Linked DNA regions of Homo sapiens: region 2 is linked to region 1. The links come from fine-mapping of genetic effects on gene expression. Tissue or cell type: minor salivary gland. Region 1 holds a variant in brackets; the other region holds the start of a gene. All regions are shown on one strand. Distances are from middle to middle.

Region 1 (8,000 bases):
ATTTATCCTCCAACTCCCCTGCAAATGGTATGGGGGCTGGGGAGGCTTAGCTCCGCCCTCAGGTAGAGAGTCATAGATGCTGGTCTGTGTGTGTTGTGCTTGTGTTGCGTGTGTATCGTATGTGTGTGTGTGTATGTGCATCTGTGTGTCTATGAGTGTCTGTGCTTTATTACAGATTGAATTAGGTCCTCCCCAATACCCATATGTTCACACCCTAAGCCCCAGGACCTCAGAATGTGACTTTGCTTGGAAATAAGGTCATTGAGGATGAAATTATATAGTTAAGATGACTTCATTCTGGAGTAGGGTGGGCACTGATCCAGTGTGACTGGTGTCCTTTACATAAAACAGGAAATTTGAGCTGGGCCCAGTGGCTCTCACCTGTAATCCCAGCAATTTGGGAGGCAGAGGCAGGAGGATTGCTTGAGCCCAGGAGTTCAAGACCAGCCTTGGCAACATAGTGAGACCCTATATCTACAAAAAAAATTAAAATTAGCCAGGTATGGTGGCATGCGCCTGTAGTCCCAGCTACTCAGGAGGCCGAGGTGGGAGGATTGCTTGAGACCAAGAGTTTGAAACCAGTCTGGGCAACATAGCAAGATCTCATTTCCACAAAAAATACAAAAAGTGTCAGGGCATGGTGGCACATGCGTGCATTCCCAGCTACTCAGGAGGCTGAGGTGGGAGGATTGCTTGAGTCCAGGAGATTGAGGCTGCAGTGAGCTGTTAACGGCGCCACTGCACTCCAGCCTGGGTGCCAGAGAGAGACCCTATCTCAAAAAAAAAAAAAAAAAAAAAAAGCCAGGTGCAGTGGCTCACGTCTGTAATCCCGGCACTTTGGCACACCGAGGCGGGTGGATTATCTGAGGTCAGGAGTTCAAGACCAGCCTGGCCAACATGGTGAAACTCCGTCTCTACTAAAAATACAAAAAATTAGCCAGGCGTGGTGATGCACACCTGTAATCCCAGCTACTTGGGAGGCTGAGGTGGGAGAATCGCTTGAACCGGGAGGTGTAGGTTGCAGTGAGCCAAGATCACACCACTGCACTTCAGCCTGGGTGACAGAGCAAGACAAAAAAAAAAGGGAAATTTGGGACACAGACACACACAGGACGAACACCATGGTGAAGCTTTCGCAAGCCAAGAACGCCGGTCACCGCCAAGAGAGGCCTGGGACAGAGTCCACTCGGGCTCAGAAGGATCCAGCGTCGCTCACACCTTCGTCTGGGACTCGCAGCCCCAGAACCGAGAGAGAATAAACAGGTGTTTGCGCCGCCGGGTCTGCGGTACCTGTCAAGGCAGCCCTAGCAAACCGATGCGTGTTTGCATGTGTGAATGCGTGTGTGCGTTTACATGTTCAGGAGTGACAGGTGCTGCAGGGTACTGACGGGGACCGCAGCCTCTGCTGTGCGTCCTAAATATCACGCCCCTCTTTCTGCAAACTGTCGCCCCAGTCACTGCCCCGTCTTCCCTTCGGAGGTCGACCCCGCCGCCCTCCGCTCGGCCGCCAGAGGGCGACCTCGGACTCCAGTCGGACGGGCTCTGCCCTGGCTCCCGGGCTTCAGGTTCTAATAGAAACTCTCGCAGGGGTGGGTCACGCCTGTAATCTCAGCCCTTTGGGAGGCTGAGGCAGGAGAATCTGCCGGGAGGCAGAGGTTGCAGTGAGCTGAGAGCGCACCATTGCACTCCAGCCTGGGCGACAAGAGTGAAACTCCTTCTCAAAAAAAAAAAAAAAAAAAGAAAAGAAAAGAAAAAAAATGGGGAGTGTCCGCCTCTGGACAAGGTGCAGCCGGCATGATGTGGCTCCTGAGTGGCCACGTCCCCTTCAGGGTCACAGGGGCGATCCAGGGAATGAGGAAAGGAAGACGGAACTGCAGGCATGGCGGGGGACCTGGCGGGCAGCTGGGGGCATCGTGTGCCCCCCCCCATGGCTACTGCCCCTGGTGGTGAGTCCCCGGGGTGGGCATCACTAAAAGAGTGACTGTGATGGCTTCATTGGGCTGGGCCCTCCAGGCTCCCCCTCCACCCCTGCCACTGAGCTCCACGCCCGGACCCAGGCCTGGGGGCACTGCAGGGACGGATCCTCAACCCTCTGGCTTCAGCTTCCATCCCAGCGGGGTCCAGCTGGGGACTTGCACCAGGGGGCAGGGGGCTGGGAGAGTGAGGGAGGAAGAGTGAGGGAGGGGAAGTGAGGCCGATTGTCGGTCCCTGGCCTCCTCCCTCTAGAGGACAGCCTGTCCATGGGGGTCCCTCTCTGCAGCCCATCCCCCACCTGTAAGGCGCCCACTGTTGCCAACCCCAGGGGCTGTGTCATTCCGCGTTGCTGCCCCTCACCCTGCCTACGCCTCCACAAACCCCACTGCTAAATCCTTCTTCCACATGAGGGAGCCATCGCCTTCCAACAGCAATTTAGGAGGGTGAATGTGATGTTTGGGATGTCTCACGATTTCCCAGCATGAACGCACAATCTCAAGCTGTGTGTGTGTGTGTGTGTGTGTGTGTGTGTGTGAGAGAGAGAGAGAGAGAGACAGACAGAGAGACTCACTCTGTCGCCCACACTGGAGTGCAGTGGCACAATCTCGGCTCACTGCAACCTCCACCTCCCAGGTTCAAGCGATCCTCTTGCCTCAGCCTCCCAAGTAGCTGGGATTACAGGTGCACGCCACCAACCACACCCAGCTAATTTTTATATTTTTAGTAGAAACTAGTTTTTGCCATGTTGGCCAGGTTGGTATCGAACTCCTGGCTTCAAGTGATCCACCCGCCTCAGCCTCCCAAAGTGCTGGGACTACAGGCGTGAGCCACCCAGTTGAGTCATTTTTTTCTTTTCTTTTTTTTTTTTTGAGACGGAGTTTTGTTCTTGTTGCCCAGGCTGGAGTGCAGTGGCGTGATCTCGGCTCACTACAACCACCACCTCCTGGGTTCAAGCAATTCTCCTGCCTCAGCCTCCAGAGTAGCTGGGACTACAGGCATGTGCCACCATGCCCAGCTAACTTTTGTATTTTTAGCAGAGACAGGGTTTCTGTTTCTCCTTGCTGGTCAGGCTGGTCTCAAACTCCCAACCTCAGGTGATTCACCCGCCTCAGCCTCCCAAAGTGCTGGGATTACAGGCATGAGCCACCATGCCTGGCCCCCCAGTTGAGTCATTTCCAGTCTTCTGAGCCCCAGAAACTTGATAAGATGTCTGTTGTTTTATTTATTAATTTTATTTTTGTTTTATTTATTTATTTATTTATTTATTTATTTGAGATGGAGTCTTGCTCTTTGCCCAGGCTGGAGTGTAGTGGTGCGATCTCGGTTCACTGCAACCTCTGCTTCCCAGGTTCAAGAGATTTCCCTGCCTCAGCCGCCCAAGTAGCCAGGACTACAGGCGCCCG[C/G]CACCACACCCAGCTAATTTTTGTGTATTTTTAGTAGAGATTGGGTTTCACCATATTGGCCAAGCTGGTCTCAAACCCCTGACCTCAGGTGATCTGCCTGCCTCAGCCTCCCAAAGTGCTGGGATTACAGGCATGAGCCATGGCTCCCAGCCTCTTCTTTTTTATTAAAAAAAATAATAATTTGTTTTTGCTTAATTTATTTCACCAGTCATATCACAAAGACATGTGTTGTTTTAGGCCACTGAGTTTGGTATAATTTGTTATGCAGCAGTAGCTGACTGATACAATAGGTGTTCCTGGATTATCTTCAGAAACCTGATAATAATATGTACACTAACTAGGGCTGTATCAGGGTGCATGGCAGGGTTTTTGAAGGCATTTTAAAGAGGTTTAGTTCCTGTCCTCAGGAGCTGCTGCCTAGTGGGGCAGACAGACCATGAATATCCATCATGGAAGGCAGAACACATAAGTACATGGACGAAAGCAGTTCCAGAGGCTGGTGGGTTGGATTCATTTGGCCTGATGTATCATGGAGTCCTCCCAAAAGAGGTGATCATCTGCCTGAGCTTTGCCAGACCTGTTGGGCTGAGAGAAGCCAGACAAGGCTCAGATGGGTGGAGGGTCAGGGTGGGTTGGAAAGGAACAAGTCAGTATGGGTGCAGAGGGCGTCCTGATGGATAGATGGGGCTGCGAAGTGGAACCAGCCATTGAGGCAGCCTCGAATGCTGTCCCCATTGTGGGGACTTTGAAAAGCCACCCTCCTTTGAAACACAGAAGGGGCAAGGAGTAAATTTATATTTCTTTTTTTCTTTTTTTTTGTTTTGAGACGGAGTCTCACTCTGTCACCCAGGCTGGAGTGCAGCGGCACCATCTTGGCTCACTGCAAGCTCTGCCTCCTGGGTTCACGCCATTCTCCTGCCTCAGCCTCCCAAGTACCTGAGACTACTGGCGCCCGCCACCATGCCTGGCTAATTTTTTGTATTTTTAGTAGAGACGGGGTTTCACCATGTTAGCCAGGATGGCCTCGATCTCCTGACCTCGTGATCTGCCTGCCTCAGCCTCCCAAAGTGCTGAGATTACAGGCATGAGCCACCGCGCCCGGCCAATTTATATTTCTGGTAAGGGGTGGGAAGAAGGAGCTTTCTCAGGCTGGAGGGGAGAGAAGACAGATGAGCACAGACACTCCTGGCAGCGGCATGAGGGCCGGGGAGCAGGTGCAGGGCACAGCGGGGCTCTGCAGGGCGGTTGTAGTTGGTGAGGACCACTGGAGCAGGGCCTTGAAGGGCGTCACCCCTCACCTGGCTGCCTCTGGGCCATCCTCCAGTCTGCCAGGGACTAGCAGAGGGGAGAAAGTGGGAGAGGAATCATTATTTGATGACCTCATTCAGCCCTAGGGATTTGGGGTGGCTAAGGTAGAATGGCAGTGGATTATATCTGACATGATGCGGGGTGTCCGGGCTCAGCTGGGCAGTTCTGCTCCCTGTGGTGATGGGGGGTAATCAGCAATCATTTAGTGGCTTTCCCTGGCCGGGAATGTTTGAGGTAGCTCACTCACAGGGCTGGCAGGTGGTGCCTGCTCAGTGGTGCCATCACCCAGGGGCTTCCAGGTGGCTGCCTCACAAGATGGCAGCTGGGTTCCAAGCAGAAAGGACGCTGTTGAGTTCTTTTTTTTTTTTTTTTTTTTTTGAGACACAGTCTCACTCTGTCACCCAGGCTGGAGTGTAATGGCGCAGTCTCGGCTCACTGCAACCTCCACCTCCCAGGTTCAAGTGATTCTACTGCCTCAGCTTCCCGAGTAGCTGGGATTACAGGTGCCCACCACCACGCCCAGCTAATTTTGTATTTTTAGTAGAGACAGGGTTTCACCGTGCTGGCTAGGCTGGTCTCAAACTCCTGACCTCGGGTGATCTGCCCGCCTCGGCCTCCCCAAGTGCTGGGATGACAGGTGTAAGCACCATGCCCAGCCTACTGTCGAGCTCGTAAGACCCTCCCTCAGAAGTCTCAAGGCACCACTTCCCCTGCCTTCTGTTGCTAAAACAGGTCACAGGAGCAGCTACATTCAGGGGAGGGGAAATGAACTGTGTCTTTCCGTGGGAGGAGCAGCAAAGAATCTGTGACCATCACACCCAGCTTTTGAACCACTTCTTCTTTGTGTCTCAGTGTTTGTGGCATGCAGCATCCCTGTTGCCTGGGTCCAGGATGCCACCCTCCTACTGGGGTTGCAGCACCAAGGGGCTGGGCATTCCATCGAGCTGAGGGGTGGGGGCTCTGGATGGGAGGCTCCCTGGGGGGAGCTCACATCTTCCATGAAGCATCATGGTCATTGTTGCCCTGTCCTGCACCCTGTCCACTGCAGGCTGCCCTCTGTGGCTGGCCTTGGTGACAAGAGATGTGGGAGAGACCCTGGTCACCACCATGGGAGGAGTCCCCAGGCACCAGGGGCAAATGAACAGAGTGAATGCCAGGAGGACCATTTAGGTGCAATATGACCAAAAATAAGTTAAGTCCAAGTGGGCTGCATCATCAACAAGAACATCCCCCAGCCTCCATGAAACAGCCCAAAACCTGGAGCAAGACGGTTCCCTGACGCTGAGCGATGCCATTCACAGCAGCGTTCCTGAATACCCCCCATGCAGGCACTCACATGCTCACACACACAATACACAAACCAACACACACCACACACAGGCATGCCAAACACAGGCACACAAATGCACACCCCCCCATAGACCCACCGACGAACACACACACACACACCCAGATGCACAGGTGCGCACACACACCCACGCACACAAAGACCCAGAGACAGACATGTGCACACACATACATATGCACACATGTACGCAGATACATATGACACAAATGCATGAACACATGGACCACACATACCAACATGCCACCTCACACAGACACACCTAACACACACACACCCGTGCACACATGTACATGGACATACACACTGGAAAACAACAAACACATATACAAAATGCAGGCCGGTTGCGGTGGCTCATGCCTGTAATCCCAACACTTTGGGAGGCCGAGGCAGGGGGATCACTTGAGCCTGGGAAGTGAGGGCTGCAGTGAGCTATGATTGAATCTCTGCACTCCAGCCTGGGTGACAGAGGGAGACCCTGTCTCAGAAAAACAAAACACGAAACACAAAATATGACCGGGCGCAGTGGCTCGCGCTTGTAATCCCAGCACTTTGCAAGGCCGAGGTGGGTGGATCACAAGGTCAGGAGATCTAGACCATCCTGGCTAACACGGTGAAACCCCGTTTCTACTAAAAATACCAAAAATTAGCTGGGCGTGGTGGTGGGCGCCGGTAGTCCCAGGTACTCGGGAGGCTGAGGCAGGAAAATGGTGGGAACCCGGGAGGTGGAGCTTGCGCCACTGCACTCCAGCCTGGGCGACAGAGCGAGACTCCGTCTCAAAAAAAAAAAAAAACCCAAAATACAAATGCATGGACATGTATCCACACACACCAACATGTTACATCATAGACAGACACACAAAACACACAAACATACACCCATCCATGGACATACACACAGACACACACAAACATCAACACACAGCATCCCACACAGACACACAAACACACAGCCATGTACCCTCAAAGGACGCTGCAGGATGAGCCTTCATTCTCTGGGACAGCAGAGAAAGTAGACAAAGGAGAGAAACTTCTCTCAGAGTCACCCATCCTCTGACTGGATCCCGTGCCCCTGTGAAGAGGCAGATCCCAGTGCCCCACACTTGGCTCTGGGGCCACCCACTGCCGCCAGGCTCTGTCCCTGCGGTTGGTGGGGGTGAGGGCAGACCCTGCTCTGTGCTGCTTCCTCACCCACCAAAACTTCCTGACGTCGCCCTGTTCCGTTGGCTGCGCTGCATATGGGAATGCAGTGCTGGGCAGGCCCAGCCTCCCAGCTGGGAAGGGGTGTCGCCACTGGCTGCAAAGACAGGTCTTCTTTTCCCCCAAGTCTGTGTTTATGCCCTACTAGAGACTGTTGGGTGTAATTCCCAGAAAGTTCTGGAATGATCTAAAATGAGGAAATAGAAAAAAGTTGTAGAATCGGGCCAGGCGCAGTGGCTCATGCCTGTAAACCCAGCACTTTGGGAGGCTGAGGCAGGTGGATCACCTGAGGTCATGAGTTGGAGACCAACCTGGCCAACATGGCAACATGGGCAGACATCACCAATTAATCATCGAATGATGTTTCTCCTGACCTCCTTCCTCCTGTGTACAGGGTAGGCATCACCAATCAAGCAATGATGTTGGTTGACTGGGGAACGCTGCTGTTTGTCCTGCCTTCCTTCCTCTTGTGCACAGGGCAGACATCACCAATCAACCAATGATGCCCACACTGCTTCCCTCCCATGCACAAAGCAGACATCACCAATCAATCGAGCAGCACCAGGAGGAAACCAATTTGGCAGTTCAATCCGTCTTCAACTCTATCCTTTTATAGATAAGGTTGAGGCCCAGGGACCTGGTCAAGGGCAACTACAGGGCAGATCCCTCCTCCTCTTCCTGGGAATTAGCTTTGTCTCTTGTTCCTGGAGCAAATTCAGGAAAATTGCAAGGTCATGTACATTTTCAGCCCAGGGCATGAGTCACTTGAT
Region 2 (8,000 bases), 890 kb before region 1:
GACAGCTCCCCCAGCCCCAGGGACCACGGCATTGGGGGACCACGGTGTTGGGGGACAGCAGCATTGGGGGACAGCGGCATGGAGCCCTGTGGTCCCTCAATTTCAGGGAGGGACCGGAAGCTTGTTGGGTGCAGTCTGACCTCTCCCACGAACCTCCCTGCAGATGGGCACCAACAAATGCGCCAGCCAGTCGGGCATGACTGCCTACGGCACGAGAAGGCATCTCTATGACCCCAAGAACCATATCCTGCCCCCCATGGACCACTCGACCATCAGCCTCCAGATGGGCACGAACAAGTGTGCCAGCCAGGTGGGGCTCGCCCGGGTGCCCCCGACTCCTCTCCCTGCCCCTCTACACCCTGTGGTCTCGGCCCCTCCCTGGGGCCACCTCCAGCTTCTCTCCCCACTCTCAGTCTCAGCCCCTTCCCTAGACCACCTCCGGCTTCCCTCCCCGCTCTCTGTCTCCGCCTTGGATTTCAGCCTCTGTCATTTCCACCTGGCTGTGGGTCTCTAGGGAAGTTACTACCTCACCCTGTGTCATTTTCCCTTAAGGACTGCCCAAAGGTCCACCCAATTCTTTTTTTTTAATCTTTATTTATTTTATTTATGTATTTATTTTGAGATAGGATCTCACTCTGTTGTCCAGGCTGGAGTGCAGTGGCACGATCTCGGCTCACTGCAACCTCTGCCTCCCGGGTTCAAGAGATTCTCCTTCCTGCCTCAGCCTCCCGAGTAGCTGGGACTACAGGTGCATGCTGCCACACCCGGCCAATTTTTGTATTTTTAGTAGACATGGGGTTTCACCATGTTGCCCAGGCTGGTCTCGAACTCCTGAGCTCAGGCAATCCACCCGCCTTGACCTCCCAAACTGCTAGGGTTACAGGTGTGAGCCACCGCACCCGGCCACACCCAGCTAATTTTTGTATTTTTAGTAGAGACGGGGTTTCACTGTGTTGGTCAGGCTAGTCTTGAACTCCTGACCTCAGGTGATCCTCCCACCTCAGCCTCCCGAGTAGCTGAGACTACAGGCGCCCGCCACCACGCCCGGCTAATTTTTGTATTTTTAGTAGATATGGGGTTTCACCGTGTTGGCCAGGCTGGTCTTGAACTTCTGACCTCAGGTGATCCTCCCACCTCAGCCTCCCGAGTAGCTGGGATTACAGGCATGTGCCACCACGCCCAGCTAATTTTGTATTTTTGGGAGAGACAGGGTTTCACCGTGTTGGCCAGGCTGGACTGGAACTCCTGACCTCAGGTGATCCTCCCACCTTGGCCTCCCAAAGTGCTGGGATTACAGGCGTGAGCCAGTGCACCCAGTGAAGGTCCCCTCTTCTCTCCACCATGACCTGCTCCACCCCTCCTTCCTCTCCAGGTGGGCATGACGGCTCCCGGGACCCGGCGGCACATCTATGATACCAAGCTGGGAACCGACAAGTGTGACAACTCCTCCATGTCCCTGCAGATGGGCTACACGCAGGGCGCCAACCAGAGCGGCCAGGTCTTCGGCCTGGGCCGGCAGATATATGACCCCAAGTACTGCCCGCAAGGCACAGTGGCCGATGGGGCTCCCTCGGGCACCGGCGACTGCCCGGACCCGGGGGAGGTCCCTGAATATCCCCCTTACTACCAGGAGGAGGCCGGCTACTGAGGCTCCCAGCACGCTCTCTCCCCACATCGTCTGCCCATCTGGGTTTTTGGGTTTTTCTGTGTTTTCATCTTTTTTTTTTTTTTCTTAACCCGTTCAGTGCTGCCAGTCAACCAAGGGTCTGTGAGTGTCAGCGTGGGATCAGGCAGCAGAGCTTTTTTCCCCTTTGCCTTGATCCTTCGCAAGGCTGAGCCACTGGGCTGTGGGGGAAGGGGTCAAGGCCATATCCCAATACGTGTAGGGCGAGGGTCCCTGCTGGCACATTCAGGCTGTGCTGGGAAGAAGAGACCTGGGCTTGGAAGGAACCGGTCCCCGACGGTTTCTGCTTGCCTCGCCTCTTCCCCCTTTTGTCAGCTGAGCAGTTTGTGGTTTCTATGCCCGCAAGTTTCAGGAAGTATTCACAAAAGAAAAATACATTTTTTCCCCCAGGGGTGGGGCAAGGACAGTGGAGAGAGTGCTAGGAAATGAGTCCCCTGGGAAAGGGGACCGGGCCGTGATGTTAAATATCTCCGGCTCCCAAGTGACTGGATTTGCCTAGGACCTTCAGACCAACAGACTTCAGACCCTCAGACCTGCCCCGGGGCCAGGTGGAGAAAGTGAGGGCCGTACAAGGAAGTGAAATTCTGAGTTGTTGGGGCTAAGCCTGACCCCCTCTCCATGCTCCCCGCCCCAACCCACTCTGGCCTCAGTAGATTTTTTTTTCAGTTGTGGTTGTTGCCCAGGCTGGAGTGCAGTGGCGCCATCTTGGCTCACTGCACCTCCACCTTCCGGGCTCAAGCGATTCTCCAGCCTCAGCCTCCTGAGTAGCTAGGACTGCAGGTGCTCCACCACGCCCGGCTAATTTTTGTATTTTTAGTAGAGATGGGGTTTCCCCATGTTGGCCAGGCTGGTCTCGAACTCCTGGCCTCAGGTGTGATCCGCCCGCCTCCGCCTCCCCAAGCGCTGAGATTACAGGTGTGAGCCACCGTGCCCAGCCCCTCAGTAGGTTTTAAGGAGCCCCCAGCCCTCCTCCCTTCTGGGCCCGACCAGCTTATACTGCTCCATCTTCCCCGGCCACATGCCCCGCCAAGTACTGCACAGGGACCCCCCACCCAGGGGACCTGCTCCGTGAGATAATGTGAAATACGACTGTGGACCAAACGCAATAAAACCTCTGTTTGTACGAAGAGAAGGTGGCCAAGAGAGTTGGCGTCGATGAGGGCGTGCTTTGCTTTGATGCTTTTGTGGGGAGAGAGGAGGTCTTGGGGGATGGGGGGATCAAGGGGAAAATGTCCACCTCACCATTGGGAGGAGGAGCAAAAGCTGAAGCCACAGGTGAGTCTGGGTGGAATGAATGATTTGAAGGGCCGGGACTTGGGGTAGAGGGAGAGGCTGGGCTTCCTGGCCATTTGGAGAAGAGGCAGTTCCCTCAAATGCCCCCCATGCGCTTTGGCTGCACTCTACCTTACAGCGCAAGTCTCGTGGCCTCAGCCTGGATGTCTCCCCGTTGGCGAACTCCTATTTATCCTCAAAGCCCCAACGGCAATGCCACCTCCTGCCGCGGGAGCCGTCCCCACGCCTCTCACTCTCCCCAGCGCCTTCAAAGCTGTGGACCCACACGCTCCCATTTCAGCTTCACCTCCAGCCTGAAGAGTTTATTTCAACTCTTCTTCCAGAGTGGGAAACGGGTTTTCCTCAAAATCAGGGTAGCCACTATAATCGGAGACTCTAGAATGTTGGCCCCCTCCCCCTCCTGCCATCCTCTGCAGAAGCCGAGGAGCGTTCGTGGAATGAATGAATGAACGAATGATCTAGTGGAACCCCTACTTTACAGACGGACGAGTGTAGTCCCAGAGTCTGGACTAAACTAGAGGGAGCCTGGCCAGCCCCGGGGACAGCGGGGACAGAGGGAACTCCTGCAATTCGGAGCTGCGGTATTGCAGCCGGTTATACAACGTGGGGAGGCAGCCTGGCTCCCCAAAGACAGCGCAGCCTCGTTCCCGGAGGGCGGCCTGCCTGGGACCTGCCGGGCACTCCGCCACCCTACGGTGATGCAGCAAGAGCCGCGCGGTCCCTTTAAGAAACCCGGCTAGGCGAGGCCCTTCTGTGATCCCGTCTCCTCCCTTGGCCCGCGCAGCTCCGACGGAGCAGGCCAGTGAGTGACGGGCAGGTCGCCCAATAGCAGCGTGCAGAGGCAGGGGCGTGCCCCGGCGCTGCTACCTGCGCGGGCAAGCTCAGCGCACTTGGCTTAAGGGGCGGCGCGCTCCCTGCCTGCTGCTGGGCGGAGGGAAGGCGGCAAGAGCTGCGGAGCCCCTGGAAGGTGAGAAGGACTCGGAGAGGGAAGAAGGCCCGAGACTCGAGAATGCGGGGTTGGGGCCGGGAGGGATGCAAGTTCCCTGGGAATTAGGGGGTCCAGCCTCTGACCTCCTTCCGGTGAATGTTGACGACGGCTGAATTGATCACTGATTCTCAAGGGGGGCATCGGACATCTGGGACCCTTAAGAGGGCCTTTGCCGATCACACACCTGCAGCCCCCTGCCCGTTAGAACTCCTGCACTCCCCCTTGCCCCGTCTTACAAATGGAGAAACTGAGCCCACTCCCCCAGATCCTAAGTCCCGCTTGATGTAAAGGAAAGAACCCTGGCGTAAGGGTCTGGGTCTGAGGTCCCAGTTCCGGCCTGGTCACCTTTAGCAACTTCCTGCCCCTCTGTCAGCGTCAGATTCTCCATCTGTGTCAGAGGTGGACCGGCCCAAGGAAAATAGATCAGGAATCGCTGACTCCAGGAGTCTCTATCCCAGCCCCTTCGCCTGACTCTTTCTCTGGCTCCCGCGGTCCCTCTGAGCGATTAATGCTACATAAGGTGTGGGCAGAGCTGGGGTCGTGCCTCCAGCTGGGCAACTGCCTGTCTCTCTGGGTGCCTGGGTTTGCTTTCTTGGGCCTCGGTTTCCACTTCTGTAGAGTGGGGTGATAGTCCAGCACTTCCCCTGGGCGTGTGAAATGTCCAGCACTGCCAATATTCGTTGCTGTTATCTTCGGAGAACAGTGAGGGGAAAGGAATCCTTGCCTGGGCTGGGCCAGGCAGGAGGCTGGGGGTCAGGACCTGGAAGAGGCTTCCAGGTGAGGCTTGGGGTGGAGCCTGGTGACGAAAGCGTTAAGCCCAAACTCGGTCCCTGGAGGATTAGAGGATGATCTTTAAGTCCCCAGCTGTCAGCCCTGCTCAGAGCGACAGTCCTGGCAGCCAATCAGATGCGAGGACGGCTGCGGGTTGCGCTCCCATTGGTTTACTCCACCCCTGGGGTAGCGGAGCCTCTTTATCGAGTGACTACTGTTTGCCTCGCTCTAATCAGAGCTTCCAGGAACCCTGCGCTGTGGGATAAAGGAATGAGGTTCAGAAAGGGGCAGGGAGTTGCCCGCAGCCGCACCGCACGTCTTCAGCCCGACCGTTGTCCTGACCTCTCTGTCCCGTCCCCTGCCCAGTCTCACCATGGCCTTCTGGACACAGCTGATGCTGCTGCTCTGGAAGAATTTCATGTATCGCCGGAGACAGCCGGTAACGCCCCAGTGTGAGACCAGGGCCGGGTGGGCAGGCAGCCCCCACTGTCCCCCACCGTCTCCCACCTATTCTCCCCCAGGTCCAGCTCCTGGTCGAATTGCTGTGGCCTCTCTTCCTCTTCTTCATCCTGGTGGCTGTTCGCCACTCCCACCCGCCCCTGGAGCACCATGAATGTGAGCCCCCCCAGGGACCAGGCACTTTGTGTGTGTAGGGGAAGGCAGATGGCTCACCCGTGCACAGGAATCCCCCGTGCATGTCAGGGAGCCTTCACCAGGCCGCCAATACATGGCATGGGAGTGAGCTCTCCATCGCTGGAGGCATGCAAGCGGTGCCGGGCGACCCGATGGGGGTGGAGTCAGGCAGAGTCCACAGGGCCTCAGCACCAGGCGTCTCCCCGCAGGCCACTTCCCAAACAAGCCACTGCCATCGGCGGGCACCGTGCCCTGGCTCCAGGGTCTCATCTGTAATGTGAACAACACCTGCTTTCCGCAGCTGACACCGGGCGAGGAGCCCGGGCGCCTGAGCAACTTCAACGACTCCCTGTGAGCCAGAGGCAGTGGGTGCGGCCGGCCTGCAAACTCGGGGCTGCAGTGCCGGCCGGAACCCCGCCTCCTGCCCTCTCTCTGTCCCCAGGGTCTCCCGGCTGCTAGCCGATGCCCGCACTGTGCTGGGAGGGGCCAGTGCCCACAGGACGCTGGCTGGCCTAGGGAAGCTGATCGCCACGCTGAGGGCTGCACGCAGCACGGGTGAGGAGGCCGGGGGGCCTCTGGCAGGGCTGAGCTCTGAGCCTCAACTTGCCGGGCCGTGAAATGGGCACAGGGTGGGGGTGGGTGCCTCAGACCAACGTCCCCCCAGCCCCATGCTCCCGTGCGCTCCTCCCCCAGCCCAGCCTCAACCAACCAAGCAGTCTCCACTGGAACCACCCATGCTGGATGTCGCGGAGCTGCTGACGTCACTGCTGCGCACGGTAGGGTGTCGGGGCGGGACCGCGCTGACTTCCTGGGACACTGCACTGGGGATGTCCTGGCACTGCCCCACCCCGGGCCAAGGACCTCCCGTTCCAGGCATCCAGGCTGTCCCTGGTCTCTGCGGTGATGCTGCTTGTCCGTCTGGGCCCCCAGACAGAGTGTGTCTGACCCAGTGAGGAAGACTCGTCTGTGAGATCTCCAATGAGTCCCTTTGCCTCTCAGAGCCTCAGTTTCCCTATTTGTAAAGTGGGGGCTATGATAGTATGGTCTGCCTGGGAACTGGCCAGAGCGCTGGACCCCTAGTGAGTGTTCAAAATCATTGTCCCCCTTGTGGTCTTTCTCCCCAGGAATCCCTGGGGTTGGCACTGGGCCAAGCCCAGGAGCCCTTGCACAGCTTGTTGGAGGCCGCTGAGGACCTGGCCCAGGAGGTACGAGGCCCCACTCATCCTCAACCCCCATGGAGGCAACGTTGGCAGGCAGCCTGCGCCGGGAGGGTCTGGGGCAGCCCGGGCACTTCCCTTGGGTGGGTTTTCAGGAGGATTAGACAGCGAGAGGGAGAGGCTGCCCCTGGCCCAGTGCCCTGCCCTGGTTAGGGCTTGGAGGTGGGATCATTGCCAGCTCCGTCTGGTAACCTCTCTCTAGCTCCTGGCGCTGCGCAGCCTGGTGGAGCTTCGGGCACTGCTGCAGAGACCCCGAGGGACCAGCGGCCCCCTGGAGTTGCTGTCAGAGGCCCTCTGCAGTGTCAGGGGACCTAGCAGCACAGTGGGCCCCTCCCTCAACTGGTACGAGGCTAGTGACCTGATGGAGCTGGTGGGGCAGGAGCCAGAATCCGCCCTGCCAGACAGCAGCCTGAGTGAGTGACTGACCTCGGTTTCCCCTCTTGGGAAGTGGAACTCTGGGCAGGGGGGCAGGGCCTCATGGCACCCCCATCCCAGGCCCCGCCTGCTCGGAGCTGATTGGAGCCCTGGACAGCCACCCGCTGTCCCGCCTGCTCTGGAGACGCCTGAAGCCTCTGATCCTCGGGAAGCTACTCTTTGCACCAGATACACCTTTTACCCGGAAGCTCATGGCCCAGGTGGGGGCAGCCTGGATGCTGGGGTGGGAGGGTGGTGGCCAGAGCCCATCCAGTACCCTCAGTCCAGGTGGGCCAGGGCCAGGCCGGAGGGTCACGGAAACTATTTGAAGAAGTAGGAGTTAGCCGATGGAGGGGGATCAGCTTGTGCGGAGGATCAGAGGCACACGCAGGAGCAAGGCAGAGGGGGCAGGGGGTGGGCAGGGGTCCTCAGAGGAGGAGAGGGTCATCAGTGGAGGGGGTGCTGTCCACAGGTGAACCGGACCTTCGAGGAGCTCACCCTGCTGAGGGATGTCCGGGAGGTGTGGGAGATGCTGGGACCCCGGATCTTCACCTTCATGAACGACAGTTCCAATGTGGCCATGCTGCAGGTGTGCGGGGGTGCTGGGGAGGTGGGATGTGGCTCCCCGGTGAGGAGGGTAGACAGGCCCGGTGGATGGGAAGGTGGGCTCCGTGCAGACCCCCACTTTTTTTTTTTTTTTTTTGAGATGGAGTCTCGCTCTGTCGCCCAAGCTGGAATGCAGTGGCGTGATCTCGACTCACTGCAACCTCCACCTCCCGGGTTCAAGCGATTCTCCTGTCTCACCCTCTGAGTAGCTGGGACTACAGGCGCCCACCACCACGCCCGGATGATTTTTTTTTTTTATTTTTAGTAGAGACGGGGTTTAACCATGTTAGCCAGGATGGTCTCGATCTCCTGACCTCGTGATCCACCCGCCTCGGCCTCCCAAAGTGCTGGGATTACAGGCGTGAACTACCACGTCCTGCTTTTTTTTTTTTTT

The links. PIP is the estimated chance that this variant, and not a neighbour inherited with it, causes the effect.
Region 2: ABCA7 starts here. The variant in region 1 is fine-mapped to the expression of ABCA7 in minor salivary gland (GTEx, PIP 0.98).

Annotation. Positions count from the first base shown.
Region 1 is chr19:1,927,977-1,935,976 of GRCh38, forward strand. No RefSeq gene overlaps it. Among named protein-coding and RNA genes, the nearest start is that of CSNK1G2, 9.2 kb to the right of the region's middle. RefSeq lists enhancers at 785-1,667, 1,766-1,855 and a silencer at 1,374-1,668. The variant C/G (reference allele first, on the strand shown) is at 3,378.
Region 2 is chr19:1,036,253-1,044,252 of GRCh38, forward strand. It overlaps ABCA7 (ATP binding cassette subfamily A member 7), which reads left to right and starts at 3,855. Exons shown (of 47, transcript NM_019112.4): 1 at 3,855-3,944; 2 at 4,973-5,175; 3 at 5,258-5,351; 4 at 5,579-5,720; 5 at 5,812-5,924; 6 at 6,063-6,145; 7 at 6,494-6,574; 8 at 6,789-6,999; 9 at 7,082-7,221; 10 at 7,473-7,589. The coding sequence starts at 5,110. CNN2 (calponin 2) reads left to right here. Exons shown (of 7, transcript NM_004368.4): 6 at 164-310; 7 at 1,373-2,813. The coding sequence ends at 1,648. RefSeq lists enhancers at 1,861-2,420, 2,008-2,509, 2,510-3,009, 4,902-5,699 and a silencer at 4,851-4,990.